2 separate regions of the Homo sapiens genome follow, and region 2 is linked to region 1. Evidence: fine-mapped expression QTL. A gene starts in region 1. The other region holds a variant in brackets. All regions are shown on one strand. Distances are between the middles of the regions.

The links. PIP is the estimated chance that this variant, and not a neighbour inherited with it, causes the effect.
Region 2: its variant is fine-mapped to the expression of GCSAM in nasal epithelium (TOPMed, PIP 0.98).

Annotation. Positions count from the first base shown.
Region 1 is chr3:112,132,117-112,134,938 of GRCh38, forward strand. It overlaps GCSAM (germinal center associated signaling and motility), which reads right to left and starts at 1,132. Exons shown (of 6, transcript NM_152785.5): 1 at 976-1,132. The coding sequence starts at 1,004. TBILA (TGF-beta induced lncRNA) reads left to right here and starts at 1,307. Exons shown (of 1, transcript NR_157393.1): 1 at 1,307-2,822. It also overlaps a transcript of C3orf52 not described here. RefSeq lists enhancers at 738-797, 1,278-1,457.
Region 2 is chr3:112,261,023-112,263,844 of GRCh38, forward strand. It overlaps SLC9C1 (solute carrier family 9 member C1), which reads right to left. Exons shown (of 29, transcript NM_183061.3): 10 at 1,902-2,076. Among named protein-coding and RNA genes, the nearest start is that of SLC9C1, 32 kb to the right of the region's middle. The variant C/A (reference allele first, on the strand shown) is at 1,564.

The DNA.
Region 1 (2,822 bases):
CAATGCTAGAGTAGAAGATTGACAAGGGGCTGTGACAACCCAGGGTAGAGAAGTCTCAGACAACATGATTCTTAGGAAGGGACATGAGATATTCCACAGGACCACCAATCCTCTTTTCGGCAAGTGGTCAAAAGTGGGCTACCATTTTTTCCTGTGTTCCACTCTCCAGTAGCATGAACTGAGACCAGGGATTCCAAACATAACCCTGTGAAGACCCCCTCTGGCTCGCTTACTCTCTCTAGATCACCCCACTTTATACCCTAGAGATTACCTTGTCTGTGGTGGCACTATTTTGGTGGCACGGCTTTGATATTAAGGAAGATGATGGTCAGAAAAAGAAAGCAGAAAATATCTTCTAATTTTGAACCCTACTTTATGTCAGGCACTATGCTAGCACAATACACACTAGAACTCTCTAAGGTAGATATTGTATTATTATTTCTACTTAAAATAAAGAGGCTGAGGTCCAGAAAGTAAATCTGAGTTCTGTGCCTATTTAATCTAGATGACCTCTGCTTACCTGCTTGCAGGGAGTGCACATCAAAGGAAGACTCAAGGTGGCAGGAAGCTTGCTGTTTATTTCAAACTTAAAATAGTGGCTGAAAGAGGGTGGTGATTTTGACCTCCTTGTGGAGCATGAGGAGCTCAGGAGAGCATCTCCTTCCCGGGCTTTCAGAAAGTTGTTTCATTTCTTAGGTGGTAACCTATTATATAGACCTTCCTTGGTAAAGTCTTTCCACCTTTCAGCTATTCTCCATCAGCTGCTCACCATGATTCTTGGGAGAAGGCAAAACCTATGGGAAATTTAATGTGGTATCTGGCACAGAGTAGGCACTGAAGGCTTGGCAGTTTCCTTACCCAACTACTTTCTACCCCAACTTAGTGTGCTAACTGTATACTAGCTTTCTTTTTCTCTTCCTTGCTGTATTGTCCTGTCCCATCTCCTCTGCTCTCCCACAGGGAGTCTAGACTTACCTGTTTTCTCTCAGCAGAGAATTTCCCATCCTCTCAGTCCTCTCAGGGCTTCCCCTCCGTCCCTTTACCACTTCCTTCTTGCCTTGTGCTCTGACAGGGCAACTCCTGACTTAAAGAAAGGGCTGTGTGGCTCTGGCCACCCGTGCAGAGACAGCAGAAAGGAGAAGGGTGTCTCTGCAGAGGGAAGGAAGAGGCTGGGGGAGGAGTGTTAGAGGCACGCATGTGCAGAATGTCCTAACATGTCAGTGCCTGAACCAACCTGGCTGTTGGCCATAACCAGCAACTACCCGTCAATGAGAGCTTCGAACCTCTGGGGAATCCCAGGTCTGAAATTACAGATGGGCCATGGGAGTTTTTCCACTACAGATATTTACGTTTATAAATCACGTTGTCTTCTTAGAAAAGTCAGAAGGAGGTTAAAACAGTCAAGCCACAGACCTGTAGAAAATATAGTATCAACAACTCTCAAATCTGAAAACAAACACCCAGTAACAAAATGGGCAAAATATTTGAACAGACATTTCACCAAAGGAACTATACAGATGAACATTAAAAGATGCTAAACATTGTAGTTATTAGGGAAGTGTAAATCAAATCCACAATGGAACACTTTTACATACTTATTACAATGGCTATAAAACCCTGACAATATCAAGTATGGCAAGGTATGCAAAGCAACTGGAAGTCTCATGCATTGCTGATGAGAATGCAAAATGACAGCCTTTTTGGAAAGAAGTGATAAGGACAGAAGGCAGGGCTTTACTGGGTAGAAGAGGGTGGTTCACTGGCAAAGGTCCCACCCTCAAGCCTTGAAACCGAAGCCCTAAATGAGAACAGTTATCCCTGTTATCCTGCCCAAATGTTACTCTTTAGCCTGTCCAGCCCCCCTATCCCGTGCCCATATAAACCCCAGACCTCAGCTGGCAGACAGACAAGCGGCTGAACATCAAGAGGAGAAGAAGCAACTGAGTGTCAGAGATGTGGCTTAACTTCAGGTGGCATGACTTCAGGGAGGAGCCCGGCCAGAGACAGCAGACTTCAGGGAAAGGTCACTTTCTTCCTGCACCATCCCCTTTGCAGCTCCCCTTCCACTGAGAGCCACTTCCACCATTTAATAAAATCGTCCACATCCATCAACTTTCAAACCATTCATGCAACCTGATTCTTCCTGGATGCTGAACAAGAACCTGGGTACCAACAGGGCAGGGTGTAAAAGGCTGCCACCCTGACTCTCCATTGAGTGGGTTAACACTTAGCTGTCCACGGATGGCAACTGCTAAAAGAGCATGAATTGTAACACATCCCTAAATGCTGCTGTTGGGCTGGAGCCCAAAAGTGCTCATCGAAGCCCTGGCACCCGCTTGCCTGCGTGCTCCCGCTCCCACAGAGAGTTTGAGCATGGTGGTGGCCAAGTAAGTAGGCCACACCCCTGTCGCAAGTCCCGAGAAGGGGTCAAGGGAACTCTCCCATCTCAGAAGTATGGCAATTTCTTATAAAATTGAACATAGGGTTACTGTACAACCTGGCAATTTCACTCCTAGGCATTTAGCCAAGTGAAACTTATGTCCTCTAAGACTGTGTGTACAAATTTTTATATGTGCTTTACTCATAATAGCCGAAATACCCTGGAAATAGCCCAACTGATCTTCATTGAGTGAATTGCTAAATAAGCTCTGTGTTATATTACATCCACACAACAGAATCCTGACCATCATTGAAAAGGAGTGGACTATTAATACATGCAATAACTTGGATCAATCTCAAATGCATTACACTAAGTGAAAGAGACCAGACTTAAAGCCTACCTTCTGTGACATTAGAGATAAGGTGAAACCACAGGAACAGAA
Region 2 (2,822 bases), 130 kb after region 1:
TTTACTGCATCCTGTTTGGCCTTCACTTCTCTCTGCAACATTTTTGAAGAAAGATCAGAGTGAATGTGAACTCTCCTTATGTGTTCCATTTCTCTGAAGGATCTAACCAGGCAATGTCCCTTATCCAATACCCCAAATCAGTTGCTTCATATATTTTAAACATTTTTGTAGTTGTTTACTATGGAAAGTAAGTCTGATATCCACTATTCATCATAGTAAAGACTAGAATTCCACAGACATTGATATTTTTCAAAAAGTTCCTAAATCAATCTAAAGTGCATTGCATTCTAGGTAAAAGACCACTCAATTAGTTAAATAGTTTAAAATTAATAAGAGCTAACACATATAACAGGCTAATAATACAATATACGAGGCTTATTTAATCTTCACTGCAATTTTGTGAGGTAATTACCAATACTGTACAATTACACAGATGGGAATCTAGGGCACTGTGACTTTCCCAATATAACATAACTTATGAGTAGTAGAGACAGAATTAAAAAGGCAATATGTCTTTGATGTTAGTATTTTTAACCCTTTACTATAATGCCTCTGGGTAAGTATTAACTGTAGGGTTCAGCTAGATTAAATTGAGAAAAGGAGTTCTACTTTCTTCTCAAGGAGTTACTTCTAGTGAGGATATTTACTAAATGATTTTACTTACTAAAATTTTATTTTAAAACACTACGGCAAAGTATATCATCACTTATAATTTCATCATCAGAGCTTGTATTTATTGTACAATTGCTATATGCTAAACAATGTGCCAAGTGTTTTATGTACATTTTTTGTTTCTCATAATAATGCTTTGTGAAAGTAGTGTGCTAGGCTGGCTCTTACTAGCTCATGAGAGCTAATCGTTCAATTTCAGGAAGTTTATGAGCTGACTGATGTTCTGTTGGTGGAAGTGATTACACAACAGAAATGGGCAAATACTACAAATTAGGACTTCCTCTCACCTCAACACTTAAGTTACTTGTTAAATATTTACCAGCAAACCATTGATACTATTAAGTCTGTTTTGGAGTGAGGAAACTGATACTTGAGGTGAGGTGGAAATTAAAAACTTGCTGATGTCCACGCAGCAAATAGCATCTAAGCTGAAAATTTCAGAACCTAGATCTGTGCACAAGGTTAGCCGTCACACTGATCAGGTGTATGGTGATGACACTGATCTTGAATATTTGGGCTTGTAGAAATAGATAGAAGGGAGAGGTCATGCAATATCAGATAATTTTGATTTTAAAGGCAGTTTAAAGATTAGTTTTTTAAATATTTGGACTGAGTATTATTTAAGTAGATACATAATGATTATCTTGCCACTTCTCTTTTTACATTTGGAATTTTTGTTAAAAAAAAAAACCCAGATGATAAAAGCATCAGATGCTCTGTGATATCTGCACAGAAATTTTCTTACAGAGATCCTTGTAATTATCTTGCCCAGACACATGGTAGAAGGAGAGTTATGCCCTGTATTTTCTGCTAAGCAGAGTTTGAGGGTACTGTTTAGAGTGTTTTACCTGACAATTAAAATGTTTTGGCTCATAGCATTACTAAATGAGC[C/A]TCAGAAAGTTACAGAAGGTAATAGGGCCAATCATAAGAAAGTTTTCACTTCTCTTGAGTGCAATAAATAATTAAAACATTATTGAGTGCACCTTTTATGCCAGGTACTATTTTAAATGATTGATAAGTTTTAATTACTTTGATCTTTGTAATAAACCTATTTCAGGGGAGAAGGAAAGTTGCCAGTTGTTCCTCCTCTCCCCGATCTTGCCATCATAGCTAAATCACTCCTACATCCCAAGTGAAGTTGAGCTACCTCACTACAAAAAAACATATATTTTAAATACACAGTAATAGTTTTATACAATATTCAGATAAGAAAATACAGCTTTCTTTACTTGAGATTTTTCTTTGTCAGATCCAAAATAAAGATCAGAGTAGGCAAGCAGAAGGGCCATGTTTATATTAGGCATCCCCTTCATTTCACTACAGACCATTATGAATATCCAGCGCCAACTGAACTCATGACCAACTCGAGACAAAACAGGGCTTATTAAAAGAAGGGTCAGAAATCTAAAAGACAAAACAATTTTTACAAAGTTATTCTTTCATATGAGTTTCTTTCCATTTCATGCTACTCTATTCTAATCTACTCCCTGTAGAATTCCTAACTCTCAAACAAATGAGACATCTTTCACACACTGTTGACATGACACCAAAGAAAGGCAGCAGGTATTCCATAGAGAGACATGCCAAGAGAATGGTATTATTCTTTCTTTCTTTCTACTAGGTGAGTAGCATAGTAAATTTACATCATCCTTGAGTGGTGCTCCTTCAGGAGGAAAAAGAAAAGTTCGAGATGTGTTGTACATAAATTCTGAATCCCCACCCCAAATAAAAACAAATTTAATGAATAAGAAGTGAGAAAATGTTCTCTGTTTCTTTTTGTTTATAGATTTTAATCTTGCTGAATTGGTCCAATATTGGCCAGATTTTTTTTTCCTTCAGTCATATATCATTCCTATGTTTTACACTAATTTTATCTGATAATTTGGGAAATAATTTTATTTTACTTGGCACTAGATGCCTTGACTTCAGCAATTCAACTAGATGGAAGTAGAATGTTAATCATTTGAGTAATGGAGATTAAAGACCTATGAGACTCTAGTTATGGTGGTTTTTCTCACTCTATGCTATCTCCTTTTCAGCTACATAAACAGACTTTTTCTACCTCTTAACAGTGGAAAAAGAAACTACAAAAATGATTTGAGAAAAAAAGATGTTTACAAAGAGGGCTTCCCTATGATATTTAAAAAGCA